2 separate regions of the Homo sapiens genome follow, and region 2 is linked to region 1. The links come from fine-mapping of genetic effects on plasma protein levels. A gene starts in region 1. The other region holds a variant in brackets. All regions are shown on one strand. Distances are between the middles of the regions.

Evidence for each region. PIP is the posterior inclusion probability: the model's chance that the variant is causal. Protein levels are from antibody-based Olink assays in UK Biobank. Linkage for the fine-mapping came from a reference panel and not from the study's own genotypes, which makes the PIPs less certain.
Region 2: its variant is fine-mapped to the plasma level of the VEGFC protein (UK Biobank, PIP 0.95).

What each region holds. Positions count from the first base shown.
Region 1 is chr4:176,785,960-176,801,901 of GRCh38, forward strand. VEGFC (vascular endothelial growth factor C) reads right to left here and starts at 6,963. Exons shown (of 7, transcript NM_005429.5): 1 at 6,206-6,963. The coding sequence starts at 6,352.
Region 2 is chr4:176,823,443-176,839,384 of GRCh38, forward strand. No RefSeq gene overlaps it. Among named protein-coding and RNA genes, the nearest start is that of VEGFC, 38 kb to the left of the region's middle. The variant A/G (reference allele first, on the strand shown) is at 8,831.

The DNA.
Region 1 (15,942 bases):
TGATGGGTGCCTACAGTAAGTCAAAAGTAATCACCACTATCATCGCCAGCAATCAGGAGCATATAGAGGAGTTCGAATACCATATATGGGTGGCCACTGTAATGAGAAAGGCAGAGTCACTGCCAGACACTTTAAGAAACCCTGCAGTTGAAAATGGCTTCTGAGAAGCTTCTGAGAAGCTTCTGGTCAGCTTTCTTAGACACTTCTGTGCAACAATGCCAGGTTAAGCTCCTTAAAAACCTCACTTTCAGCATACCACTAAAGAATCTTCATTGGCTCCTGCTGCTTTCAACTCAAACTCAGACTTTCTCTTTGGTTTTCACACTTCCCACCATGCTCCCTTCAGTTTCCCTTAAAGCTCTTGACTTTTGCACCAAAGGGTTTGCTTCTAGTTCCCCAAATATCCCTGACCTTTACTTCCTCTGTACTTTGCTGTCATTCTTCAATATTCAAAACATCCCTCTCTCCCCCATTTCTGTAATTAGCATCTACTCATTTTTAACATTGGGTCTCATATCATTCCACCTTTCCCAGGCCTGCCCATGCAACTCCCAGAAGGCTAGCCAACAACTGGTGGTAACTCACAAGACTCTCTTACAAAACCACTTACATGGTCTGGATTTATAGTTTAATTCACTTGTAGTATTTTTAATGAGTAAATTTATTTTCTCCAAAATGATTATAAGCTTGTTATAGACAAGATCACTCACTCTACATTTTTTGCATCACACACTGAACTGTAATTTCCTGCTTAGAACTGAAGCTGCCACTAGTAAGAACTGATTAACATGAGTTGAAGTAGATTAAAGAGCAAATAAACCTGGTACTAATGGGTAAAAAGGAATTAGGAGCATCCACATGGCTTCTTTCTTGAATTCCTGGATTACCTTTCCCTGCCTCTTCCAGGCAGCCCCAAGGCAATAAAGCAATGGAGGAAGGCCTGTGGAACAGGGCTACAATCCATCTGCTTATCCAAAATGCCTGGAGACTGCAAGAGTCTCTGAACCTGGAATTTTTCTGGAAACCAAGTGCATAGACATATTAATACTCACACCCCAAAAACAAGCAGGACTGATGGCAGCATCATGTAAATAAATACATTACTATTTTCCCAGTGAAGATTAGAAATATTTAAATTAGATAATAATGACTATAAATAGCCTTATGTCAGTTCAGATCAGGATTATAGCACCAAATAATTTAAGAAAATTAGCTTTTGGGGCCGGGCGCAGTGGCTCATGCCTGTAATCCCAGCACTTTAGGAGATCAAGTGGATCACCTGAAGTCAGGAGTTTGAAACCAGCTTCGCCTACAAGACAAAACCCTCTCTCTATGAAAAATACAAAAATTAGCCTGCTCTAGTGGCACATGCCTGTAATTCCAGCTACTTGGGAGGCTGAGGCACGAGAATCGCTTGAACCCACGAGGCAGAGGTTGCAGTGAGCCAACATCATGCCACTGCACTCCAGCCTGGGCAATAGAGCATGACCCTGTCTCAAAAAAAAAAAAAAAAAGGAAAGAAAGAAAAAGAAAATGAGTTTTTGGATTTCAAAATTGGAAAAAAAACTATCGTGGATAACTCCTAACACCTGAAAGCCACTAGGGCGCGAGCAGTATAAGGAAACAGTACTAATCCACTGACAAAGCATTTAATGTACAATTTGATTAATTCCATGATGGATGCCCAATAAAGCAAATTAAATAAAAACAGTCTCTGCTTTCTCATGGTTAAACATAAACTCTGAAAAAAAAAATTAATCAACCGAGGAAAGAAGCCACCCCAAAAATTTACACTAGTAAGTTTCAGAAAAACAATTACACAAACCTAAAATATTTATAGTAAATTTTATAATTACACTATAACTCAAACTCATCAGCATCTCTCCTTGTTTAAAGTTCTCTGCTATATCTGTTTTTTCTAATGAGAAAAATCAATGATAACTTAATCCACAATTTATACAAATCTGTACATACAAATATGTGTTTGTAACAAAAGGTAGACCCATATAGTATTTATAAAATGCACATCTACAAGGAATAATGTAACTGGTGAAAGGTGAAACAATATATGCTCAGAAGTCAGAGGAAGTATAACGCTTCTGCCAACTTAAATTTGTTCTTTCCAAATCCACTTATTTGTGAAAGGTCATTTGGCAGAGGTAAAATCACAATCTTTCACTGAAGTTACTTGAGCACAACTTTGAAAAACCGTTTGTCAGAAAATCTTGTTAAGCCTCCAGTTAAGCAGTCGTTCTTATAATATTACCATGGATTAGGTCATTTATAATTTATCTTTAGTCAAACGAACACCATGTGGTAAAGCCTGGAAGAAAGTCTGGGTTTATTTCCGTTTGTCCCGTTGTGGGGAATTAGGACCTAAATAAATGCAACAAGGTGCCCCTAACTGCAAAGTCACACGCAGTGCTTTTCTCTGCCTTCCTGCACGCTGCTATAGTGTGCCAAAGGAGACCAGCAGAGGGGCTGAAAGGAGTCTGAATCACAGGCCCAAAGGCCCAAACCCATTACCACATTTCTCTAAAACATACATGCTTCTCGATTTACGATGGGGCTACATCCTGACAAATTCCTCCTGAGTTGAAAATATATTTAATATACAGTAGAGTACCTGTTGTTTACTCTCACGATCACATGGCTGACTGGTCACAGCTCACTTCCATTGTCCAGCATCCAGAGAAAGTATTTTACTGCATATTATTAGCCCAGGAAAAGATCAAAATTCAAACCTTGAAGTATGGTTTCTACTGAATGTCTATCGACTTTGCACCATTGTAAAGTCCAAAAGTCCTAAATAGAACCATTCTAAGTCGGGGACTGTTGGTATATGCCATAAAACTTTTTTTAAAAGAAAAAAAGGAAAAAAACATCTATTCTTTTTCCTGGTTAAGTCATTCAGATCTTGGGTTCATCATCCTTAATGAAATAAAATAATGTCCATATTATGGAGGTGTAGTGAAAAACAAAACTAACTTGCAAAGCTCTTTGCGAAGTGCTTAACACACGTTATGAACATCACAGATAATGATTATAAACTCCTACTCTCAATAACAACCCCAGGACTGCCAAAGGCAAGCAGGCAAGCACAGTCCCAGGGATTCGGGAAACCTTCATTAGTCTCACGCCAGTTCCTCTGTTGGTGAAAACCCCAGCAAGAGCTGAGAAACAGCATTCTGGGTTGGACACATGGAGATAACTAGGAGGCCAGGACCTTCCTCTCAAGAGGAACCGGAACCAGAACTGGAAGTCCAAAATGAAATCTAAATCCACTACCCTCCGTCTTTCTCAACTCAACTGAAAAGGACAGGATTAGAGATCTACGGGTCTTAGACATATGCCACTAAGATCAGTAATTAACTGCTTTCTATGAAGCAATTTTGATAACTGTCTTGTGAATAAATAGCTATCAATCAGATATTCATAGTTCAGAAGACTATAATGGAGTGGAAATCAAAATGAAAGATGAATTGAACTTTCTATATCTAAAACCTCATATAAGTAGCATCACTCAGAGGAATGTCAGAAATCTCTTATAAGAGTAGATGTTGACAAACATAATCATATACTATAAGAAAAATTGTAAATAGAACAGCTTCAGACTTGCTATTCTCTTTTGTTCCCATCATGTCCAGTTAATTTTACTTTTGCCTGCCTTACTTTTTTGACACTGTCTTGTTTGTGTTAACATCCTTCAGAGAAACATTTTAAGACTTTTCAGTAAGTCATGCAACCACAAATAACTAGAAATAGGAATCCAGTAAATGCAAATATAAGTCGAGGAATAAGGAGATCTTCATTCTATTTGTGATTTTTACCTACAATCTTTTGCATGGCTTTACGGGTGGGCTGAAGGGCTGGATGGCTAACCTTGGTTCATAGTTTGTGTGCTATTTTTGATTTTTTAAATATTAAAAAAGTTCCTAGGTGAAAGTTATGAAAACATTGCATCTATTGGGATTATAGATATTTAGCATCTTCTGTTTACCTTCTGAAATATTTTCTTGGGGTTCATGTAGTTATAGAAAATTAACAATTGATTTCTCCCCAGTTCTTCTCTAGTGCTTAAATCTAAATGTGGTGCTTGTACAGGCCACTAGGGAGAGACATAGAGTCTTCATATCAGTTTCTTGGCAGTTGTGTGACATGTTTCATAGCAAGGACACAGCAGTTTCACTGAATGCATTAATGACACATGCCCTGTCAAGGCTCTATTCACCCACTGGGGAACGACACTTTAATGGAGCAATGAAATACTGCTTTGTGGTCTATGGAACTCAGAGATGATGTTTCATATGGGAAATGATGTTTCATCACATAGGAAAGGAACCCACATCACATGCAGAATACTAACCCATATTCACCATACAGAATATAAAAATGGTTAAATATGAAAAGCGACATTTGCAAACAAAAATGCATAGTGATTTTCACAGCAATGGTAAAATTTGCCATATCACCAATGGCAAATTTTACATCACCAACGAAGACACTTTTGAAAGTTAAAAATAAGTTAACTTTTTTAATCCTCCAATCCCATACCTATACATAACACACGTAAACACACACACACACACACTCAAGGTACATTAATTCTAGACTCACCCAGCAGTGAGTGACTCTCATACAGGCTATTGGCTTATCAGGGAATGTTTCTCATTTTACTCTCTACTGCACATTTTCTTACTGTAAACCAAAGTAAGTGACCGTAACCAATACAGAGATGTTGCCTTACTAAATCATACTTTTACTAGTTTTGACTTTGCAGAAATAGCAAATAGGTACTGCAAAATCAAGGACTCAAATTATCAGAAGCGTTATTGAGCCGATTATTACATTTCTGCGGTATTTAAGAACAGAAAGATATTTTCATCACTATAGTTACGGCAATGTAAGTATAGGCACTGAAAATTATTTTTGTGATTCACAGAATGCAGTCTGTTCTATTTCATGTATATTGTTTTTACTCAAGAGGCATTCCTTTAACCCCTATATTAAATTATTACACATTCCAACATTTTAATGTTTTCCCAAAATTTAAATGCAAAGGTAGTTTGATTTCCAAAAATTAGTCTTCTCAATCTTTAAGTGTATTTCAAAATATAAATATAAATAAAATATTTCAAAATATAAGGCTATTTTCTACACATTGTGTATGTGTTAATCAACAGTCAAATTAAAGTTGACTGTAACACACCACAGGTACCTCTCCACTTGCCACCAGTTGAAATAAACTACCGCAGTATAGTTCCAGCAAGGGGTACTGCAAGTGTTTGAACTGAAATGTCGAATATAACTTCTTTAGGAACTCTCTTAAGCATACTCTATATGGTTATGGCAGGTATGAACTTTTTAGATAAAGATATACTCTTTTGGAAGAGCCAGTAAGAAGTAGGAACACACACAAATCCTTTTTCAAAATCAGGATGCCTCAAAAGTATTTTGGCAACATTTTCAGGCAAAGGATTAAACACCTCTTATTTAAAAGAAAACAAAACAAACAAAAAACCCAAACAAGAAAAAAAAAAACTTAGTTTGCAGTATCTCATGACCAGATTTTAGGAATGAAGAGCTTATAAAGTTGAAACAAGCCTTGCATTGCTTGATTGTGATCTAACTGACTCTAATCTCCCGTTACATCTCAAGTCTGACCAACTTCAAGTGAACTCTGAAAGCTCTGGAGCCTGGTTACTAAAGTCCCTGACACTTTTTTTCTAAAGTCGCTCACAGCGCCTGGTGCTCTGCAGACTATGAACACTCCAGGAAAGTAAGGCTGGGTTGACTGATCACCAGTGTCCCAGAATCTGTTTGGAGTCCCATGAATCAGCTGGGGAAAGAAACGAGCATTTCCCGACCAAAATGAACTCATACTCTCCAGAGCCCCGCTGACTGGGCAGGGTTCAAGACCCCTTGGTTGCCCCAGAGGAAACCAGTCTGAAATAGATTTCGGGATCTCTCACTGGGCACCTCTCCGGGCCCTTCACTCGTGTAACTTGCTTGCCTCTCTAGTAACAACTTTCTATTTAAAAAGAAGAAGATTTTTCTCCAAAGCAGCGTGCACTGAGCTCAGTAACTTTGGATCCCACGTACACAAGCTTAAAGCACACACACTTTCCCCCGCGCAGGTTCTCGGGTCCGCCGCAGACCCTAACGCAAACTCTCGGGTTCTCCGCAAACCCTAACGCAGACCTACCGTGGCCTCGCCCGCGTCGGGCTCCGCGTCCGAGAGGTCGAGTCCGGACTCGAAGGCGGCGGCGGCGGCGGGCGCCTCGCGAGGACCCGGGAGCAGCGCAGCGGCGAGCAGAGAACACGCCACAGAGAAGAAGCCCAGCAAGTGCATGGTGGAAGGACCGGGGGTGGGGGACCGGTCCGCTGGCGGGGGCAGGGGTGGGGGCGCGGGCGCCCCTGCGAGGCCGCGGGCCCCTCCTGGTCCCTCTCCCCCGGGCTCCTCCCGGCGACCCCCCCTGGGCGAGCCGGAGGCGGCGGGAGCGGGTCCGGGGCTCCGCGTTCCCAACTTTGCAGGGCGCCCTCCCAGCCAGTGCCGGGGAAAGGCGGCGGGTGTCAGGTAAAAGCCTCACAGGAAACCGGACATCCGAGCTCCCCGCATTCGGAGCCCGCGAGGTGAAGCGAGGGCGAGGGAGGACGCCGCCGCGGTCCGCGTCGGTGTAGCTTTTTGGAGAGGCGGGGCGGGGGACACCAGAACACCCCGCGATGTTCAGCCCCTCCAAACCCGCCAGAGCCCTCGTCCCCCTCCTCCCTCCCCTTCCCCGAAGTGAGAGGAGCCGGGCCGCGGGCGCTGCGGCGGGGGCGCTGGCGGCGGTGCCGGGGGCGGGAGGAGGGCGGCGGGGCGGCTGGCGGCGGCGGGGCCCGGGAGCGCCGCGGCGCAGGATCCTCCAGAGCGCGCCGGGCTGAGCGGCGGCGGCGGCGGCGGCGGGCGCAGGGGCAGGGCATGACTGACGCGCCCTCTGCCTGCGCTTATGTGAGAGAAAGCGGCCGAGGGAGGGAGCGTGCCGAGCCCGGGCTGCCCTCCCCTCTCACTCTCCCTCGGAAGCCGTCTCCCTGGAGCTCCCCGTTTCCCTCGCCTCCTCCCCGGCGGCCCCACCTCCCCCGGCCCCCCTCTGGATCTCTCCCTCCCCGCCCCTGTCCCCTGCGGGGAGCGGGCGGCCGGAGGGGCAAGTTCAGTCCCGGGGCTGGCGGTTGGCGGGACCGGCTTTAGAGGTGATGCGACCACCCTGGACCACGTGCAGCGGGGAGAAACTGGGCACCGTGGGGTGGAGGGAGCCCCCGCTTTATCCTCGGCCACTCCCGAGTTCTTGTCCTCCCTCCCGCACGCCTGGCCCCCAGAGCCCTGCTCAAAGTTTGGAAATGTCCTGGGGGTTGTAAAAGTTCCAAGAAAAGGTCATCACTATGTCAGAGAACCCTATGGGACCTCGGAGGGGTCCCCTCTCTCCCTTGGTCTGTGTAGTTGAAAGTTGCCTGATGATCCAAGAACCGCAGTTCTCAGGATGCAGTGCAGGCTGTTGGGATGGATGCTAATGATCCCTTTGGAATCCTAAACTTCTGACAGGTGAAGAGAAGGGCCAGAATCTTCGTGGAGAGTAAAGAGACACATTGTCAGCTTCTGCAAGAAGTTGGTTTACTTGAAAAAGGGGGTGATAAAGAGAGATGTGTGTGAGACATATTCCAGAAAGGATGTGTAGCATCCAAAGAAAAGTGACTGCATTTCCCCATTGGAAAAGCACTGGGGTTTCCGTTGGGCTGGTGGCATTGGCTAGCTGCCTCCTTGGGGCAGGGTGAGCAGGTTACAGAGGACCACGCTAAGGGGTTTCAACAGTGTACAGAACATCAAAAGTCTGCCTTTCACTCCCAATCTACTTTTAAGTACACAGATGTTATAGGTCCATAATATCTTACCGGAAGAAGAGACTTTCTTATCTGGTTCAACTCTAGATTTGAAACTCCTCACCCATAATTTACTTGAAGGCTTAAATATCTCAAAGGACAGGGAACCTTCCATTCTGTGTGGCTGTTCACTCCCTTTATTGATGAGCAACACTGCTGAAAAGCATTTCCTTCTATCTCTCTATTGCTTTTGACTCCTGGAGTTTTACACAATAAATCTAATCTCACTTCCACAACTGAGTCCTTCAAATATTTTGAAAATATTTATCATGGTCTCCCTAAGCTAACTTTACTCCTGGCTAAATATCCCTTTTATTCCCCAAGATGACAGTTCCAGTTTCCCCCCTTAACCATACTGTTAGCTTTCCATGTTCATGAAGTATGCGGTTGAGAACATGGCTCGGTACTTAGTGCTGTAATGAGCATGCAGAATGGACAGTATGCCTTTGTTGATACAGCCTTGGATTGAGTTTATTTTCTGGCAGCCAAATCACAGTGTTGACTCACACTACCCTTAAAGTCAACAAAATTCCTCAATAATTTTTCATATGTACTGCTACTTAGTCACGTCTAAATTCCCCTGTATTTGTGGAGTTAAGTTTACTGTATCCAAGATGCTTTTTTATGTATCTTTATGAAATTCCATCCCATCAGACTCGGTCCATGATCTAGCCTGTTGAGATGTTTTGTGATTTGGAACATGGTCAGTGTATCACTCTCTTGCTGTCTTCCTGCTCTATGCATATTTGATCAGCCTGCCATAGTTATCTTCAGACATTGATAGATCTGTGAAAAGGGAACAGCTAAGGGCAGACTGGGGTAGGATTTGAATAGAAGGTGGAGTTTCCATTCAACCATTTGCTATTACAATGATTCTAAACTTTGATTGCACTTGGCATCACAAAAGGAGATTTTGAAAAAACAGATGCTTGAGTACACCTTCTGCCTTTCTGGCTTAACTGGTCTAACTGGAGTAAGGCTTGGACATCAGGATTCTAATAGGCAAACAAAATTGAGAACCACAGGCATTTCCAACACCCACAGGCCTAGCAGCGGGTGAAGACTGGAAAATCAACAAACTCAAAATATATCCAAAATATATTAATATCATATTAACTACTGTTTCATTTAAATACAGCAGTAAGCTGTATTCAAACTTTTTTCTCACAAAAGTGTTATCTTCCTGCTGCTATACTTTGAGTCAGAAAATGCTGGCAAAAAGTTTATTTGAATAAAAAAAAGGTCTCCAAAAACAATCATGCAGTAGTTGTTTGTCTTAAGGTTGGTCGGGCACGGTGGCTCACGCCTGTAATCCCAGCACTTTGGGAGGCCGAGGCGGGTGGATCATGAGGTCAGGAGATCGAGACCATCCTAGCTAACACCGTCCATCTTAGGGAGACCATGATAAATATTTTCAAACGTTGGTGAAACCCCGTCTCTACTTAAAACACACACACACACACACACACACACACACACACACACACACACACACACACACACACACAGAATGTCTTAAGGTAAAAACGAATAGTTGCTCAGGACTTTTTGGTTTTTTTTCTTCCTTACCCCCTGGAAACACTTTTTGCCACTAGCAGATTTTAAAGGTTGAGAAAGTCCTTTTCACTGGTTTGTGAGTTCATCACTAGCTTCATGCAAGACCTATTTTACAACAGGTCTTCTAAATCTGGTTATTCAAAAAGCATTGCTCAGTCAGTGGAGAAAGAGAGGTAGCAGGGCCCCAGCCAGAATAACACCTCTTTTACATATTGAGTTTTTGTTTTCTTTGATGATAGGTTTTGTTCTTTGTGTTTTGTGTCTGTGTGTGTGTGTGTGTGTGTGTGTGTGTGTGTGTTTGTTTGTTTGAGATGGAGTCTCGCTCTGTCTCCCATGCTGGAGTGCAGTTAGAGTACAGTGGCACCATGTCAGCTCACTGCAACCCCTGGGTTCAAGCTATTCTCCTGCCTCAGCCTCCCAAGTAGATATGGGAGATGATAGTTTTGGATGGCAAAATAATGATGATAATATATCCATTGTACATTCTCTAATATCCATTCTGACCATCTACTTTATTTCTCATTTGTTATTCCCTACCTTCTTGCTTTGTTAGTTTTACTTTGTTGCTTCATTTCAAGCTTTTTTAGCTGAATGCTTAGTTCATTTTTCTTCTTTTTAGTTTAAAAATACAAGTTTCGGGCCATGTGTGGTGGCTCACATCTGTAATCCCAGCATTTGGGGAGGCTGAGGAAGGAGGATCACTTGAAGTTACTTTGAGACCAGCCTGGGCAACACAGCAAGACCCCATCTCTGCAATCAATCAGTCGATCAATAAAATACAAGTTTTGTCTAAATTCTGCTTTACTTGTATTTCTCAATTTTGATACGTAGTGCTTCCTTTGGCAAACAGTTGCAAATATATCTTAATTTGTTTATATTTTTAACCCCCAAATTATTTGTGTTTTCTTAGTTTAGGGATATATGATTTTTATCAATTTCTAATTTTATTATATTTAATTTTTGCTATAAATGATGTTGCTTTTAGAAATGCATTCAGGCTTTCTTTGTAGTCCTGGACATGGCTGATCATTGCAACTAATTCTGTGTGTGCTTTATTTTTGTTGGGTATTAATTTTGAGCTTATTATAATGTTCAAATCTTGTTTGGGAATGACGTTAAAATCTCCAGTTATAATTGTTGACATGTTTTTCTGTTTCTGACAGTAGTTCTTCCTGTTATTTTTTAACATAATGGGATACTATATCATTTTGATCTAATTTTCTTCTTGGTAGTATACAATGTCATTTTTTTAACTTCTGATATTTTTATTTGAAGTTCTACTTTTTCTGATATTAAAATCATAGGCTTTAAGAATTGAGATCAGCTGTGAACATGACTTAGGTAAAACTATGAACCAGTTATGTACACATGACTTAGTTGTTTCTTCTAGGAAACATTAGCCTGGAAAAGATAAGACTGCAATCCAGTATTTAAATTCAGTGTTTGCTTCAAGAAATGCTGGCAAAACAATATATCGAAGATAATAATATTCTGACTCTGGTAAACAGCCTGCTTATTAATGACAGTTTTCTTACCCAAACTCTCACTTACAGATGTTAACTGATCCTAAACTACTAGATCATGAACGTTGCCCAATCTTACTCAATTCCCCACTTTGAAAGACCCACCTTAAACTACTCGTGTCCAGACTCCAAAGCTCTACAACTATTCTGCTTCTGACTTACCCAAGACACCCTAAGACCCTGTCCAGGTGGCACTCTCCCTTACTGCTGTAGGTTCGGCTAAATGGAACTTTTGTTTATTGAAAACTTTTCTACTGATATTTTCGGGTGTACAACAACTTGGAGGTCCCATTGAAATCCTTCTCCCTAGTAGCTCAAGCAAAGATCCTAAATTCAAAAATAGTGCAAATCACTGAGGCCTCTTGAGCTTCCTGGCTTGGTGGGGGGAATCACTCTGACTGCAATGAAGGGTTATGTCTTCTGTTAGATTTCAGTCCCAGTTTCTTTTTATCAAGCTACCAAATGCTAAAAGATCTCCTTTCAAGAACCCTTTGATTATTTGATCAGACTTGAACAAATTTATCCTCAATAGATATCTGCCTTATTACTATTGCTTTTTATCCCTGCTGCCTTCATAATTTTCTCATGGGAGTCAAAAAAAGGAAGTTCATAAGAAAGAGAATAAGCACGGGTCCTGTTAAGTCAATTCACTGAGCCATCCCTTGGGACTAGATGCCCAGAAGGATTGGTATTGACTAGACAGATATTGCCATAAACTTTATCAAAAGCTTATACAACGATTTGAAGTCTTGTTTTGTCTGTGAGACACTGATTTTGAATGAGATCTCTTGGTCAAACTTTCCGTCTTCCCAAACTGCACATTTATCAGATTTGCCACTGGAGATTACCTAACCTTTAGTTTGGGGAGCCAAGGGCATGAGGTACACAAACAACTCATTTGACCACCCATTGCCAGATCATTTTGCCTTTGTCTCAGATTAAACCCAAGTTCATATCCCCTCCAAGCCATATTCCTGCCTCCTACATGTATTTTGCACTATAACTGATACTATGTATCTCTGTCTAAACAGCTTAATTTTACCAACATTAATTTAGAATTTCAGAGGCCATTTGAGAAACCTTTTGTAAGAACAAAACTGTTCATTTGAGAGGTGCCTTATGGAAAGAGAGTGAAATTCCAAACATTCAATGATATGTATGTTCTGATTGATATAAGAAGTCTTACAATAAAAATACAGATTCCACAATTGCTTCAGTAATTGTTCCACGGAAGGCGCAAATGAAAAAATGTGAAAAGCTCTTTTTTAGATCTGCCCAAATCACCACTTGACTCAAAAAGCTTTTACCTTTACTATTCCTGTTCTCTCACCCAGTTGCCCTCCAAGTTCCCCTTCCCTGACACTCTTTCTGATGTCCCTTTTCTTCTGGCCAGCTAGAAACACTAAATGCTCAATTGGCTCTTAAAGTTGACCAAATCAGTATAAGCTCATTATGGCAGATTTTAAGCCCTGGGTTGGGTCTAAGGTAAACGTCATTTTCAAAAACTTCCAAAGTCTATGCAAGGTAGGTATAAATTTACAGAGAAATTTGCAATAGTTCTAGGAACACATAATTCAGGGTTCCCAGATCTCTATCAACTGATTTATAGGTTATTATCAACCTCAAATGCAACAAAATGTGTTGGAAAAGGCAGTGTGAATACCTTGAGTATGATTTAAGAGACTCCACATTTCAGAGTAAAACCAGAGGAACTTAAAAAAGCTATAAATTTTAGACAAAACTTTTGGAGTTTATGCACCAAAACAAAAATGACAGCATTGGAAACCTCAGGGGGATGCTCCATCACACCTATAGAAAACATTCAGATGTAGGTCCTGGAACATGTGCAGTGCCAGCTCTTGCTTCACTTTCTCTGAGTGGCCTAATGTCAGAAATAGGGAAATTTAACATACAAGCAAAACTGGAAAGGAAGATCATCCTGTTGCTAGACCTCCAAGCCCTCACGGAATGAAACTAAAGGGGAAAAAAAGGAAGTAGGAAATCAGTGACGCTCTTCCAAATGAGGGTCAAGGACTCAGTTTCCTATTTGCCCTTAAATGCTCAAGGAGAATTTCTGTGTCTTAAAAGGTGGTCTTGTGAATGTTTGATCCTGGCACTATCATATCAACCAAAAGACTTGCCACTGTCACATGACCTCTTTCTCAGAGTTAAACAACTCCAGTGGTGGCTATCTCTAATAATCCACAAATTCTCCCTGTTGCATACTGTGCCTGTCATCTTCAGACCTTACCGAGGAATGTTCTTCATAATCTGTCACTTTCAGAATGGCAGTTTGTTGTCACCAGTGGACCTCAGGTGGAACCTTGCAAACATTTTTCATTAAATTTTCCACCTCAAGAAGGACAAATTGATCACTGTACTTTGTCAACATTGGTAGGGTAATTTTATGGAGGTTGCTGAGAATGTCTCCAGTTGCTGGTCTCTTCTGCACCAGCGTAATCTAGTTAAACTGTAAAGGTGGAGGCTGGACAAGAACTCAAGTGTCAGGGTACCTTTGAACCCTTACAAATGGGTTTCATACAGTCACCTCCTTGGTATGGATTTTGAATATCCTAGTCAATGTTTGCTAATTTCCAAAGTGAGAGGAAACTTTTGTCTGTTAGAAAGGTAGATTCTGACAGTAACAGCTCGCCCTTTGAAGTTTGGATATTTCTCACCCAATTTAGGGCTCTACCATACTTTGGGCAGACATGGCAAAGCACCACAAGGGACTCACACAATATACTCACTCTTATCACCAACAAGTATGGCTTGCATTTTCTTCATATTCTCCCAAGGAATCTTGGCACGACCTGAAAAACAAAGACTTTGTCATCTGGAAAAGACAGCATAGAAAAAATTCCTAGAAACCACATTGGAAAGAAATAGCAGATAAATTTGACTAGAACAGCAGTTAAACTTGAGGGTATAGATGCTTGGATTTATGTCTCCCAGCTAAAAAGACACAAAGTTTGGCCCACTGACAAAAGGACTGACATTCCATTAGAAGATTGAAAATTAGGGATTCTAAAGTATTTTTCAGAAGCCAGTGGCCCTTGGAATAGAGACAGCTTCTACCACGAAGCTTTGTTTCAAGATGGCAACTGCAGGATGTGGACAGCTTCCACTCAAGACTTACAAAGACTTACAAAAGTCTTTGAAGTTTGGATATTTCTTACCCAATTTGGGGTTCTACCATACTTTGGGCAGACATGACAAAGCATTATAAGGGACTCACGCAATATATTCAGTCTTATCACCAATAAATACGAACTGCATTTTCTTTCTTTCTTTTTTTTTTTTTTTTTTTTGAGACGGAGTTTTGCTCTTGTTGCCCAGGCTGGAGTGCAGTGGTGCGATCTTGGCTCACCGCAACCTCCGCCTCCTGGGTTCAAGTGATTCTCCTGCCTCAGCCTTCTGAGTAGCTGGGATTACAGGCATGCGCCACCATGCCCGCCTAATTTTGTATTTTTTAGTAGAGATGGGGTTTCTCCATGTTGGTCAGACTAGTCTCGAACTCCCGACTTCAGGTGATACACCCGCCTCGGCCTCCCAAAGTGCTGGGATTACAGGCGTGAGCCACTGTGCCTGGCCCGTTAATCCCAGCACTTTGGGAGGCCGAGGCAGGTGTATCACGAGGTCAGGAGATTGAGACCATCCTGGCTAACACAACAGTGAAACCCCGTCTCTACTAAAAATACAAAAAGTTAGCTGGGTGTGGTGGCGGGCGCCTGTAGTCCCAGCTATTTGGGAGGCTGAGGCAGGAGAATGGCGTGAGGTGGAGCTTGCAGTGAGCCGAGAATGCACCACTGAGCTCCAGCCTGGGCGGCAGAGCGAGACTCTTGTCTCAAAAAAAAAAAAAAAGAAAAAGAAAAAAAAAGATATGCAGACTTACAAAAGACTTAACAAAATTTACAGTTTTACAAGACTTACAAAACTAGATTTTAATGGCTGGTGTTTTTTTCCTTCTATATTTTCTTTCATCATTGAAGGCTCAAAAGTCTGGGTAGTTAACCAATGGTTGTTATTTCTTACCCAGTAAAAATTCATGTTCTCTAACTTGAATATTGCTTTCTGTATCTTTAGTCATTCCTTGATATGACAACTCAGATATCAAGAGAAATGTATGCATGATGTGGCCAAAACCAACAATCAAGCACACTTTTCCCTATGAGTGCCAACCTGCTAGTACCAACCGTTTGTTATGAAATACTTGATTTCGTTCATAACTGGACTCAACCACTAACTGAATTTTTATGTGAAAGAGAACACAACAGAGCAGGTAACCAAAATCAAAACCTCCCTGGAAAGAAAGGTTTCTGCCTCCACTGAAATCATACTCAAGGATCCTTTCTCAAAGATAACATCTGCAAACAAACTTTCATGGAGAAAAGCCTCAGAAAGGGAACAAGGAACAGATGGTTTGTATTTAAGATCTGACTCAGATTTACAAACCTTACAATGAAGGCTTACTATGGAAGTAACTCTTTTGGTTGTCTATCATATATACCCTGGGTGACCTTTGTTGAACCTCTTTTTGTCACATAGGGTTTATGTGAATACTAAATTAGTTAATATGTGTAAGGAACTTAAAATAATATTTAGTATCTAGTAACCTCTCAATAAACTTTGGATAAAGCATTAATAATTGTAGATGTGTTATTGTGTGTTATTAATATCATGTCTGATATACTAATCTTTATTTCTTCCTTATATTTACGACATTTTTTCTGTTGTTTTACCCTTGTATTTAAGTGACTATTCAAATGGTATCAGATTTGAACATTGACTTTCTTTTTTAAGCAACTTGAAAATGTCATTCTATTGTATTCCCTCATCAAATATTGTACCAAGAAATCTAAGCATAATAATAGTTTATAGCCATCTTATGTCCCTTATGTATCTGACTGTATTTTTAGGGGTGCTACAAATTCTAATGTATTTGTTA
Region 2 (15,942 bases), 37 kb after region 1:
CAATTTGGGACACATGAAACAATCAGTGAGAAATGTGGGATCAGGATAAGATGCAAAGTGGCACCATCTGAAACCAAGGATGCAGAAGAGTGTAAGTTTATAAGATAGTTTTGGAGCTGTGACTGAAAAACTACCACTGACCAGTCCTCTGTGCCGGATGTAATGGAGCCAGTGGAACCCCGTCATAGCTGTGTAGTCACCACCATGTTGGGATCCCTGAATCTGCTTTGGCCTGATGTACCCCAGCAACTCAGACTTCACAACCTAGCTCCTCACTCCTGTCTTGCCTATTTAGACTTAAAGGACCTCCCAGCCTGCGAATCAGACACCACTCTCACTATCAGGTTTTCCTGGCAGAAACCCATAGTAGGGGGTAACATTTGAGAAGAATCCTTAAATTCCCTGGAGTATAGACTTGGCCCTTGCCTGCTCACATCAATAATGACACCTCAGTTCTAGGAACTTGTCAAGAAGTCACTATTTTACTTTTGCCAAAACTTTGCTAGAGCAATGAATTTTGTGTTAATGATGTTTGGGAATACTTGTATATAAAATAAGAGTGCTTGATGAGAAGGATGTCTGGAATTGAGTATATAAATGTTTATATGCTGGAAAACTCACTAATTTTGGCAATCAGCTTAATAATTATTTGCATAAGTTCTGTACAAAAAAAATGGTTTTCTGAGGGTCACAGAAAGCTCTCGTTTTTTTATAGGAGAAAAATGGATACATAGAAATAGAAAATATAACTAATTGAAATAATCATCCATGAAAGTAATTTAGCTCAGCCGGGCGTGGTGGCTCACATCTGTAATCCCAGCACTTTGGGAGGCCAAGGCGGGTAGATCACAAGGTCAGAAGTTTGAGACCAACCTGGCCAAGATGGTGTAACCCCGTCTCCACTAAAAATACAAAAAAATTAGCCGGACGTGGTGGTGTGTGACTGTAATTCCAGCTACTTGGGAGGCTGAGGCAGAGAATTGCTTGAACCCCAGAGGCGGAGGTTGCAGTGGGCTGAGATCGCGCCACTGCACTCTAGCCTGGGCGACAGAGTGAGACTCCGTCTCAAAAAAAAAAAAAAAAGAAAGAAAAGAAAACAAATTAGCTTACTTAGCAAGTCAGGACTATACTCCACAAACAAGTAGAGTTCTCTATAAGAATTTAGGTTCTTTATAAAAATTTTATTTATAAAAAATGTAGTCCTAAAGAAAAATTTGGTTTAAAAGTAATTTGGTGTTTTGCTCTTAAATTGAGGGTTATTAATTATGCTGGCAAGAAGATAAAATTGTTTCAAAGCTGGCACAATTTTTATTCTGAAGTTAAGACCTTTCAGCAGAGTGTTCACATTGCTGTTTTAGATGTTTGCCTAAAACTAAGGAGTTTGTGGTTTTTGTCTGCCACAGAAGTAATATAATCCCGAGTCAAATTAAGCTAGTGCTATGGTACTTCCTTAGTTTTAAAATTCAATATTCTTGATATTCATGACAGTTCCCTTTTTGAGAACTGATTTTCTGCAGTTCAGTGATACTCCATAATGCCTAATAGATGCAAAGGTAAATATGGTATGTGCACATCTAGGCAGTTTGGGCTGAATATAGGAAGAATTCAAGCCCAGAACTAAACCACTGCCTTTCAAAGCTGATGTCATAGAAGGAATGAAGAGAGAAACAAGTCAGTTTATTTTGCCCCTGCCCTGACCCTCTTACACCAACCACCTGGGGTTGAGCCAGACCTCTCAAGTTAAGGACACACTCCTCTATGAGACTGCCCACACTCCAGATGCCAGCTGCAAGTTTGAGGTTCCCCAGGCCACCTTCACTACTGAGCAACCGGCTACAAATTTGGAGGTTGCCACAATCTCTTCACATTTGATTCACTAAAATAACTCACCAAACTTAGGAAAGTGCTGTATTTATGATTATGCTTTTATTACACCAAAAGGAAATTAGAATCATCCAAAGGGAGAGACTCACAGGGTGAGCTCTGACAGGGGCCTTACCTGAAGCTTCCATTGTCCTGTCTTTGTGGAGTCCTAGATGGCATTCTATTCAACACACACTTGTGCGGCAATACTGAAGAGCTGACAACCAGGGGTTCTCCTGAGCTTCAGTGTCCATGGATTTTATTGGGATTTCATTACATAGATGTGATTGATTGAATTTTTGGCCATGCTACTCAATCTCTAGCCTCCCTACCTCCCTCAGGGATTAAGCTGTTATTACCCAATTCAAAGGCCCAACCCTCTAATTACATAGTTGATCCTTCTGGTAATCCCATTCTAATTCATCTAATTAGCCTAAACTAAGAGCCCACTGTGAGTCATCTTGTTAGTATAAATTATCAAGTGTTATCTGAGGGGCTCACTATGATTCAGAAAGACACTCCTATCTCTTAGGAAATTCCAAGAATTTAAAGTCTATCTATCAGGAGCTGGGGACAAAGATTAGCCAAATTCTTTATCATGCAGCCTTATCTAGCTAAAAGTGTCTGAGTTTCTAAAGAAATGGGTTCAATATTTTAATGGTTTTTTTCTTGTCCTATTTCTATTAATAATGGCCTATAATGCTCTCTGACCCCTACATTCTTCTCTAGGTTTCTTAGTAGTGAGGTCTAACTTGCTTCCTTCCTCCTGGGCTCTGAAACTAAGGAGAGAACTAGATAATAGAATGGCTGATACTTACAGAAAAGTACCGCACAGTAGGTGTCACTCTAAGTGCTCCACACTTGTCTCTCAGTTAAATGATCACAAAACTTTCTATGAGATAAGCACTATTCCTACCCCTTTATTGGGATCAGATTTCTCTGCATATATCAGATAATAAAAATACAGCAAGGCTGGGTGCGGTGGCTCACGCCTGTACTCCCAGCATTTTGGGAGGCCAAGGCAGGTGGGTCACTTGAGATCAGAAGTTCGAGACCAGCCTAGCCAACATGGTGAAACCCTGTCTCTACTAAAAATGCAAAAATTAGCCAGATGTGGTGGTGGGCACTTGTATAATCCTAGCTACTCAGGAGGCTGAGGCAGGAGAACTGATTGAACCTTGGAGGCAGAGGTTGAGTGAGCCAAGATTGTGCCAGGGCACTCCAGCCTGGGCGACAGAGCGAGACTCTGTAAAAAAAAAAAAAAAAAAAAAAAAAAAAAGCAGTGACAATACCAACCACAACCAGTAGCTTAAATATATACATGTTTCTTTTCTCACACAGAAAATGTGCAGAGGTAGATAGTCCATGACGGACAGAGAACATATTCTTCCCCTGCTCCTGTTCTACCTTTCATTGCCCTTCACTGTACATACCAATATAGCTGTTCTAGCTCCAGCATCTATATAGAACAGCTATTTACAGTGAAGCTATAAATAGAATAGCTAGCATTCTATTTATTGCATCAGAAGATGGTAGTGACTTCTCCATTTGAAGAGACTTTCCCAAACGTCCATGCAGCATGCATACATACCTCTGACTCCCTGACTTACCCAGCAACTTGATTTTGAAAATAGAAAGAGAAAAGCAGTTTGTCACCAACAAGCAGTTTGTCACCTACAAGGGATGCTTAATATGAAAATAACTTCTGATTTTGCATCAAAATCTATGGAAGCCAGAAGGCAGTGAGATGACATATTCCAAGTGCTGAAAGAAAAAATAATTCTATATTGGGTAAAATTACCCTTCAAAAATAAAGGGGGAAATCAAGATATTTTCAGATAAATGTAAAAATGACAGCATTCATTGCTAGTAACTTTCTTGCTCTGCAAAAATGCTAAAGGGAGTCCTTCAGGCTGAAATAAAAGAATGCTATACAGTAACTTTTTTTCCTATCTAACTTAAAAGACAACTGTGTAAAACAATGGTTGTAAATCTATATTGAAGGCACACTGCATATTAATACGTAATTTGTGATAATATCAACATAAAGTAGGGAGATTGAGTGGTATAGGAGCAAAGCTCTTATAAAATTGAAATTAAATTGGTATTAATCTAAACTAGATTGAAGTCAAAATTTGAACTAGATTGGTATTTGTTTGAACTAGATAAAATCAGGGAGAGTGATGCCTCCAGCTTTATTCTTTTTGCTCAAGGCTGTATTGACTGTTTGGGGTTTTTTGTAGTTCCCTTTGTAGATCCATATGAATTTAAGGATATTTTCCCATTTTTGTAAGAAATAACATTGCAATTTTGATAGGGATTGCATTGAATTTTGCATATCACTTTCGGTAGTAGGGACTTTTTTCAATATTAATTCTTCCAATCCATGAGCATTTGATATCTTTTCATTTATTTGTATTTTCTTCCATTTCTTTCATCAGCATTTTATAGTTAACAGATATTTTGCCCCCTTGGTTAAGTTTACATCTAAGTATTTATTGTAAATGGGATTTTTCTCTTAATTTTCTTTTCAGATAGCCCATTATTAGCATTTAGAAATGCTACCATTTTTGTATGTTGATTTTGTATCCTGCAACCTTACGAATTTATTATCAGGTCTAAAATTTTTATGATAGAGTCTTTAGGGTTTTTATATATAATATCATGTTACCAAAAAAATAGAGACAATTTCATTTCTTCCTTTCCTGTTAAAATGCCATTTATTTCTTTCTTTTGCCTAAGATCTGGCTAAGTATTCCACTAAATCAACTCAAAATGATGAAAAACTTAAATATTCAGGTCTTATCTGAAACCGTACAATTACTAGAAGAAAACACAGGAGAAAAGCTTCGTGACATTCTTCTAGGCAATAATTCTTTTAAAGATATGACCCTAAAAGGACAGTCACCAAAAGCAAAAATAGGCAAATGGGATTACATCAAACTAAAGGCTGCTGCACATCAAGAAAAACAAATAACAAAGTGAAGAGAAAATCCACAGCATGAGAGTAAATACTGGCAAATCATGCATCTTATAATGGGTTAATATTCAAAATATGTAAGGAATTCAAGCAACTCAATAGCAAGAAAATATATAACCTGATTTAAAAAATGGGCAAAGAACCTGAACAGACACTTCTCAAAAGAAGACACACAAATGGTCAATAGGTACATGGAAAAATGCTCAGCATCAGTAATTATTAGGGAAATACAAAATAAAACCACAATGAGATATTACCTCAGACCCATTGGAATGGCTTTTATTAAAAAGAGGAAATAAAACAAGTGATACAGAGAATGGGAAGAAGAGAGCTCATACATTTTTGGTGAAATTGTAAATTAGTACCTTTTATGGAAAATGGTATGGAGGTTCCTCAAAAAGCAAAAAATAGAACTACTCTATGACCCAGTAATCCCGCTTCTGGGTATCTATCCAAAGGAGCTGAAATCAATATATCAACAGGATGTCCGTTCTCTCGTGTTTATTGCAGCCTCATTCACAATAGCCAAGATACAGGAACAATGTAAGTGTCCATTAATGGATGAATGGATAAAGAAAATGTGGTAAATATACACAATGGAGTAGTATTCAGCCTCTAAAAAGGGAGAAATTCTGTCATTTGCAACAACATGGATGAATCTAGAGGACATTATGCTAAATAAAATAAGCCAGAAACAGAAAGACAAAGATCATCTGATCTAACAAAGTTATGGAATTGGAGAGTAGAAGAATAGTTACCAGAGGCTGGGGTTAGGGTAGGGATAAAGAGAATAGGGAGTTGTTGATCAAAGGGTTCAAAGTTTTAGATTGATAAGAGGAATCAATTTTAAGATCTAGATCTATTCCACTGTAGGGTGGCTATAGTCAATAATAATGTATTATATATTTCAAAATAATTTAGAGAGTAAATTTCAAATGTCTCACCATAAAAAATGATAAGTAAGTGAAGTGATGGGCATGTTAACTAGTTTGACTTAATCCTACCATACTGTATACATATATTAAAACATCACATTGTACCCCATGAATGTACACAATTATGATTTGTCAATCAAAAATTTATAAAAATAAATCCAATAATATATGCAATGTATATACAATTGTTTAGCCATATGTGAAAGAATGAATTTGGATGCCTACCTCACACCATTTTACAAAAATTAACCCTATAAGTGTCAAATAATACGTTTTAATTCTTATGTAGGAATTAAAGCTATACAATTCTTAGACGGAAACATAGGTGTAAATTTTTGTGACCTTGGATTAGGCCATGGTTTCATAAATATGACACCAAAAGCCATGCAACAAAAGAAAATAATAAATACATTGACTTCATAAAACATTAAAAACTTTTGTCAAACAAATGACATTATTAAGAAAGTGAAATGACTACCTTTAGAATGGGAGAAAATATTTGCAAATTATATATCTGCTAAAGGTCTAATATCTAGAATATAAAAAGAACTCCTACAACTCAACAACGAATGGCCAAATGACTCAATTTCTTTAAATGAGCAAAGGACTTGAACAGATAATTCTCTTAAGAAGTCCTGCATGGCCGGGCACAGTGGCTCACGCCTGTACTCCCAGCACTTTGGGAGGCCGAGGCGGGCAGATCACGAGGTCAGGAGATCAAGACCATCCTGGCTAACACGGTGAAACCCCGTCTCTACTAAAAATACAAAAAATTAGCCGGGCGTGGTGGTGGGCACCTGTAGTCCCAGCTACTCTGGAGGCTGAGGCAGGAGAATGGCGTGAACCCGGGAGGCAGAGCTTGCAGTGAGTCGAGATTGCGCCACTGCACTCCAGCCTGGGCAACAGAAGGAGACTCGGTCTCAAAAAAAAAAAAAAAAAAGTGTGGTGTGTGTGTGTATATATATATATATATATATATATATATATATATATATATATGCAATGGGTTATTATTTAAGCATAAGAAGGAATAAAGTACTGACACATGCTACCACATGGATGATCCTTAAAAACATTCACTTGTGCTAAGTGAAAGAAACCAGATGCAAAAGGTCACATATTGTATGATTTTGTTTATATGAAATATCTGGAATAGGCAAATCCAGAAAATAGGTAAATTCAAAGAGGCAGAAAGTATTACTCATGGGGTGAGGGGAGGAGGAATGGGGAATGACTGCTTGATGGATAAGTGCCTTCTTTTTGGGGTGATGGAAATTATCTGGCATTAGATAGTGCTATATTTTGAGTATTATGTAAGCCACTGAAATTATACACTGTAAAATGGTTAAAATGGTGAATTTCAGTTATATGAATTTTATATCCAGTTTTTTAAAAAGATCTTGCTCAGAAGAAATATCTTTGCTCCAGGACATCCATCTACCTTCTCAGTCCAAGGCCCTCACCAGCTTCTTTTACATTTTCCCAGGAATATTATAACTTTTGAGAAACAAACTGCTTTTTTAAACATCACACTGCTAAAAAATCAAGAAAGTGAGAGTTCCATGTTTTGCTTTTAATCGGTATAAGGTATATTGTGAAGATAAACTAAATTTGAATAATTCTGAATAAATTAGTGGAAAATAATGACCTTATTGTTGGTTAAGTGCGGGGAAAATAAACTATTACGTTTGGATGAACTTAGCTTTTCCTTGTGAAGGTTGCCAGACTAGCTATTATTAATGTACTGTAATTTCCACAAGGTTTCTTTCTTCTGGTGAAAGATTTTTTTTTTCCATTTTCTGATCAAAGCACTCCACTTGACAACATTCAAAAATGAGTGTGCCTGTGCCTTCTCCAAAACACCTTTGGTATGTCGGTGAGACCTCGTCATCCTCTAGTGGTTCTATTCAAAAGTTACATTCCACATAGATGTCCGCTTGAGCTTTAGCCAGTAGATACCGTCCTCAGTGCTTACCGTGATACTCCAAGCAGTTTCTTCTGGATGACTTCCAGAGCATCACAGCTCACGTGAACTGAGACTACTCTGCTTTAGCTCCATTCTAATGGAATGAAATACTCTGTTCATCTTTTCTTTCTCACTGTTTCTATTCTCTTTCCACCATCTCATATGCCAAAATATCCTGTAGAATATTTATTTTCTATTTTGAGCCACAACAGTCACTATTATATAGATTCCTAATACACTTTTCTCAATATTTAGAAAAAGTGATAATCATAAGTAGTGTAAAATATTCCAGTCACCGAGTATGTACTATTAAAACATTTTCTCCTTGCACCAAACAGCCATAGCAGGGTTTTGTTTTGTTTCATTTTGCTTTATTATCCGACATGTAGTCTCTTCCGAAAAAAGTGTATTTTAGATCCCACAAATAAACGTATCAAGACATCAAGAAACAGGTAATAATTTATAAAATTTTGAACTTGCACTTACTTTTTTTACTGATTCCAACCAAGAAAAAAGTAATGCAAATATAAATCCCTTTAAAAATTCTATCATGAAGACAGAAATAGCTGCTGGATTTAAAATCTAATTTATAATGTAGTGATAAGAATAATAATGTTAAATGTCATACGACTATGTAGAAACAGCATGTAGTTTCAAGCAACTAATGAGCTCTTTTGGAAATAAATAATTCTCTTTTGGATAAATAAATGTTCTCTTTTGGAACTAATTCAATATTATCTTTTAATACCTGAAGCAGAGGGGTACCAGAATATTGCTGCAAACATCTGGGGGCAAGACTTTTGTCCAATATTAAACATGTCTGTAATATAAATATATTCTTTTAAAAATTATCTGTTTTTTTATAAGAAGGAACTGTGTTGTATATTTATTTCAAATATTCTATACTTTAAACTGCTGTTATAGGAATATTACAGGAAATATTTCTGTGTGGTCAAAAGAAGGCAAATTAGGTATAAAATTTGCTTGGATGTATTAACTTGAGCTTTGGAAAGAGCCAGGAAAGACATTGAGATTTTTTTTGCAGCTTTCCAGTCTTTCCGCCTTTCTCCTTCCCCTGTAGCTGTA[A/G]GATTGCCTCTCCCCACTCCTCACGCCAATTTTGCTGTCCTGCTGGGAACCCTTTTCAGAGAGAACAAGATATATAGATACATGATTGATAGATAGAAAGATAGATAGATAGATAGATAGATAGATAGATAGATAGATAGATAGATAGAGATAGATGATAGAGAGACAGATAGATGCTATTGTAAATAACATTCTACTGTCTCTTTATTAAATACCACGTTCCCAATTATTTATGTGTAAATTATCTGCAGTGTCTATTAATAGTCTGAATTTCTCACTCTTATTGCACTTTATTGTCTTGGTAGACTGGGATCACCATCAGAGTACAATTACCTCCAGGACAGGAAGATAGGTCAAATTTAATACAATGTGATTACATAAGCGTGAGTGGATTTTTCCTTGCTATTGATAAATTTCATTAGCTAAGATATTTGATATCTGTTTCATAATGCTAAAAATATGTGCAAATATTCTCTTTTATCAGCACATTTATTGTCAGCCCTCCATATCTGTGGGTTCCACATCTGTGGATCCAACCAACTGTAGTTTGAAAATATGTTTTAAAAATGGATGGTTGCATCTGTACTAAACATATATAGTATAGACTTTTTTTTACTAACAATTCCCTAAACAATGGAGTATAACTATTTACATAGTGTTTACATCATATTAGGTATTATAAGTAATCTAGAGATAATTTAAAGTATATGGGAAGATGTGCATAGTTTCTATGCAAATACTACATCCTTTTATGGGGACTTAAGCATCCATGGGTTTTAGCACCTGTGAGGGGTCCTGAAACCAATCCCCCAGGGATACTGAGGGACGACTACATTCTCTATTACTTCCTTTGATGAGGTTACTGACCTCCACTGATAAATTCTCATGCATTTGTAATGGACTTAACTCCAATGTTTTTGTAAACATATAGTATTAGTGAGCAACTTCTATGGGTTTTATTTTTGCAGTAAGTTGGATTACTCACTAGATTGTGAGCTACTTAATGTCTTATACATCTTTATAGTCTCTGTGTTGCCCACAGTAGGTAGTCAATATTTGCTGAACAGAAGTTAAACATTTTTTAATCACTATATATGATATTTCTTTGGCATAAATGGGTTTTTAATGTGTTAGAGTTTCATATGCTTAAAAATGTGTTCAAAAGAAAACTATCTTTATGTCAAAAAGATTTATACAGTTTGCTTTTTAAAGTCTGTGTGAATGAACCAATACTCTGTCTTATGTCACAGCTGGACACTCCAATTCACCGCTTTAAGTCCAGCACTGCTAATTCCCTGACTAGCTTCCCTAGGAAAGGATATTCTTTTAAGTCTGGCGCTATGCTGTAAACACACTCCTGTTTATTCCAGCTAATGAGAAACAGGCTGTCTGGAAATGTGTCTCTGAGGAAAATACTGAGCAAATCTTTAGAAAATAAAGCACTCCAGATTGATTGAAAAGATAACATTTGGTAACATGGTGCAAGAAAAACTATAATATCAAGCTCAAAAGAAGGCAAATTAGGTATAAAATTTGCTTGGATGTGTCAACTGGAGCTTTGGAAAGAGCCAGGAAAGACACAGAATTTTTGCATCTGTCCGATCTTGCCCCTTTCTCCTTCCCTTGTAGCTTTAGGATTGCATCTCCCACTCCTCACACCAACTTTGCTGTCCTGCTGGGAACCCTTTTCTGGTCTTGTTATCTTTCTTTAAGATCAGCCAGGCTGTCTCTTCCTCTTTTTCTTCTGGTAATAAGGTGTCTAATAATTTATAGCCTTTTAATCTAATGGCTCTTTCTGTGGACAGTTTCAAATCTCTTCTTTAGATACTTGCATTTGAAAAGCCACTAACTTTTGAAACATAGTCGTTATTATCAAAAAGTTTTGTAGGACTGTGCCTTACTGAGCATTGATTTTTGTACTTGGAGAATAGTTTTATCAAAAACATAAATTATTTCACTTATTCACTTAGGGTAAAATGCCTAACAGTAGACAAGTGACAAGACTTAAAAAAAAAAAAAGCAGTTTCTCATCAAATTCTAAATCTCTTGAATCTCTCGTCTTCATAATTCTTCAACTCCTTGAAAGTATATGAACTGCTTATTGGTCATTAACTTATTTGTAAATGCAAGTGGAACTCCCATTTTAAATACATCCCCTATTGATTCTAAACCATACTCTAAATTTGTCTATGTTGCCCATTCCCTTCCAACTTTAGCCATCGCTGAAACTTCAATTGCTTTCCTGATGCTACCAAAAGAGCAGTATCATCAGTGCCCCCTCACTAATCATGTAATCTTCCTTCAGAAAGCATTTATGTTTTTTGTTATTTTCCTATAAGAAGAGAAGAAAGTCTGTTTTGGACTTCGTCCAGCCAACACTATTAGGCAATTTCCACTAATAAAAAGTGTCATGAGCCATGATAGAAAAGTTTTACTACTTTAAGAATTTTTTCCATTTCATAGCCAAAGAATATCTGAATTTTGGAGATAACACATAAATATAGAGTTTTAGGTTCTACAAAGAACTAGGGTACAGAAAAATAACTTGGTCATTTCCCCAGGAAATACTCTGACTACTAATACCACAACGACTCCTAACACCACTACTGTAACAATTTCACATTTCACAGTATTTTCCCTCTCCATAGCTTCAATTGCAGCCAACATGGAATCCAAAGAGAACCAGAACTTTCGTTGTGAGAATGTTTTACACTTATTCCATTTACACTTAACACTTCATCATAAAAGTAGAACAGGTAATCTCAATGATATTTCATTGGAGGCTCTAAGAGGCTAAATGAACGACTTGATTAAGTTTACCAGGTTTATAGCAGAAATCTACTAATGTCTTCATTTCTGACCTACAAATGGCCAATGGGTCTAAATTTATGGGCCATAGACATTCAGGGTTCTATAGACTTACTTTAAAGAGATTCATATCTACAGATATATATTTTAAACTAAATAAATATTACAATAATATCTTTGTATTTTTCAATATGATAAAATACAAATTAACTTTTAAATTTTATTGGATTTAGAGTGTATTTTTATTATATATTTCTTAGGCAATGATTAAAAATAAAGTTACTACTACTATAGTGTCTGGATTCTTTTTTAATGTTAATGAAAGATTTTCATACCAAAAAATGTTGGGAACCCCTGTGCTAAATTATGATTCAGGTTGCTGTATTTAATTATGATTTGGGTCTCTGGGCCACAAATAAAGCTAGGAGAAGGAAAGAACTTATCTATGAAGAAAGCAAAGCTTCTTTTGGTTTTCTATGCACCTTTTCTGTAGCTTTTATTCCTATCTGTCACATCCTCACCCCTTACATGTCTCTCTTTCCTCTTCCATCAGGAAAAACAAACAAACTAAAAAACTTCATGATGTTTATGGAAGCTACATGTGTTTTTACTAACAATATTTATTGAATGTCTATTGTGGATGTGGTAATGTGCTATACACCTTATACACATCAACTCATTTTATTCTGACATCAACCATATAAAATGGATATTATTCGTCATATGTTGCAGATGAAGAAACTGAGGTTCAGAAATATTTACCCTTCAAAGTCACAAAACTGATGAACTGCAAACTCATGACTCAAAATCATGGCTGACAAATCCCAATGCCTACATTCTTTCAAAGGTAAATATTTGAATTTTTACATTTTTAAGGCTCAGGTATGAAGTTAAGTAACTTAGGTCATTCTAGAATATAGAGTTTCATTTTGCTATTTTAAAGTAGCAGCTGTTCTTTGAACATAGAGGTTGTGTCTTCTTTGTTCACCTGTCAATCTTCAGCACATAGCAAAATGTCTGGCATATACCAAATGCCCAGTGAAGGCTTTTTAAATCCTTTCTCATTCTTTCCACTTTCTACATTCAGTTAATCATTCTCTCTCAAAAATGTCTCTCAAATTTTACTTCTCTTTATTTCTATTGCCACTGTATTTGTATAAGTTCTTGTTGTGAACAGAATCATGTCCACCAGAATTCATATGTTGAAGCCTTAACACCCAACATGACTATATTTTGAGATAGGGCCCTTAAAGAGACAATTAACGTGTAAATAATTGAGTGTATGGTAGTTAATAAAGAGCCAGTAGAATATTAGTTACAATAGCATGCACCACATATACATCTTGCTCTCTTTGGGTTTACACACAATTACCTACTGTCCTATCCCTCTAACTGCAACAGTAAGTATTGAAATTTGGGTCATAAGGGTGGGGCCCTAATCCAATATGACAGATGTCCTTATAAGAAGAGGAAAAGACAACAGCAATGCACGCACAGAGAAAAGGCCGTCTGAGGACACAGCGAGAAGATGGCCATCTGCAATCCTAGGAGAGGGGTCCCAGAATAAACCACCTTTAAATCGATTTCAAACCTATTATGGAATTATTCATGCTAAATATACCATAGTGTTTATATTTCTAGGCCAACATGATAAGCATATTAAAAATGACTCCAAAGCAGATCACAAGTAGAATCTAAATTATTGACTGGTTTGCTTTTTAGAAAATTATGTAGCAATTCCCTCACTTAGGAAAATTTAATTTTAGGCTACTTTGCATGGTTTCCAACTGTAACTTTCCATGGGAAAAAAATACAGGAAAATGGGCATGATATACTTAACATCGTTGAAAATGCATAATGACTCCACCTTTCTGAATATTGGTCAAATGTTACATTCCTAAGAACTTCATTTGTTGAATCATCAAACTTTGTTAGTGAAGACCTAGGTATGGAGGTTAAAAGCTGTTTTTACAATTATTAGGCTACAAATAGTTATTACATAAAATTTGTAGATGCAATAGAAATTTGCTTGCCAAATATTTAACTAATTTGACTATAGTGTGAAATCTTCTTAAAGTGGATGATCTGATGATTCTTTGCTCACTGAGGACAGCAGCGTAGGAGTAAAATTTTAGTTATTTTTAAGAACCCATTTCTTAAAATGTATGGCATGAATTGTACTCATTATTTCCAGCTTCAAGTATTCCACGAGAATTACTCTGTTTCTTTGTTTGTGGTATAATCATGGGAAGTTCACCTAAGGGCAGAGTGGTAAGTGTAGAAAATCCTGGTTTATTGCAACACATGGGGACTATATTTGGCCTTCGAAAGGATTACTTGCTCTAAAGTTTTAGCATGCAGCATCTAGTATTCAGGATAAAACATCATGTTTTTTCTTAAAATCCTGGTCAAAGTTCTGGTCAAATAGCATACTAGCTTTTTTTTTTTTTTTTTTTTTTTTTTTTGCCCAGGCAAAACTGCATTGTCATTGTGTCCGTGATATCCAGTTAATACCTTGTTAATAGCCTATACCCTCTAGTAGGCTTTAAAAAAAAGGTCTTTGTAGGGTGGGGACACAGATGAACATAAATCATAATTAATTAACAGGCCACAAGGATTGCCATGAAAATAATAGCTTCCTGGGTCCTTCAAATCTAATCTACCATCAAACTTTCAGAGTCAAAGCAATCTCTTTGACAGCCACTTGAGTTAATTTGAAATTAGATAAGTGGAGAAAGCAGAGAAGCTTTCCTTTTATTGAATAAAAATTAACTTCTAAACCATGGAAAAATAACCTTTCCTGTGATTTTGTGATTGGTGATCACACTGGAAAATTGTTCAAAAGTATTAAAAATATTGATTCAATAATGGATAATCTTTTACAGCTTTTATTTTTAGTGTCCCTTGAAGAACCCAATTCTTTAATTACTCTTACAGAAGGAACACAACTTCATAATCCTTAATTTAGGTTCAATAGAGCAACAACAATCGTTGGATCAAGACAAGTCTAGGTTTAAATTCTGTATTTTTAACTTGTAGTAACCGTTCTAGATGCCAAGTTTCCCTTCATAAAACTAGGGTAGTACAGGCTCACTATCCCTTATTCACAATTCTGAAACCCCTAAACCACTAGAAACCATTTTTTTCTTACTTTGCAGAAAAACCTGATGTGACCCGAATCCATTATGTGAAAACCTGACTAGCACTGATGTGGGGCTACTTACAGCCTTTACTTATTCTATCCTATATAGATATGCATACATTTCACTGAGGAAGGATTAATGTTGTTTACCGAAGAAAGACACCCCAGGCCTAAAACCCAAAGATTTCGGAATCCTGACACATATTTAGCCGGAAGGATTTCATATAAGGGATTATGGACCTGTAATACCAATGATGAGGATTCATATGCAGAGTAAAAAAGCAATCAATATTAATTAGTAATGCTTGACCCAAAGTAGATTTTTTTCAACAAACACATTGTTTCCTGTTCCTTCACAGACAAGTGTTCTGTGCAAAATTATATTCGTGTTAAATGATCCATTTATTGCCTTACCTCCCCAATAAATGTGTGATGACATCTTTTAAAAAAGAATAATTTTGGTTCAGATCTATAAGATGTGACAAACCGCAATTGTGATGTTTGGAATGATTCCAACACAGTATTACAGTTTTTTTTAAAGGCCATGCCATGGACAGTTTCTTATTGTCTTACCTCACTGGGCACGCCCAGTGCTGGCCGTGTATTGTGACTTGCACAGACAGGAAGGCCACTAGGATCCTGAAATGCTAGAAATAACTCAAAAATAAAAAATAAACACCAGCAGTAAAAAGTTAGACAATGGAGAAAATGATTTAGAAGGAAAGCCTAAATATTTTAACTCAGTGTTTGACTATGAAAATGGGTAAAGAGAATGGCATATTCAGAAAGTATCTAAACCAAAGTCAGTGAGAGAACTACTTAACATGACACTAGAGTGAATAACCTTAAAGGAATGTTATTCTCATTTATCAATTCAAGGTGATGATAGGACTAGTTCATCATTTCGATTTCAAGATTTACTGTTTTCCAAGTGTATCTTGGCTATTGCCTCGTTCTCATGAGTCTCTAAATACCGTTCACTAAGCCCAAATTAATTGTCTGAAGGCACATAGTGAAGCAGTAATACTGGTTAGCAATGTTTGTTTCATCAATGAAGCTACTGCTCTTTCCATAAGTATGACTAATAGGTTAAAAATATGCAAAGGGAAACTTGGGAAGTCTGAGGGATTTTCCAACTCCAACAACCAATTCTCTGATTCTC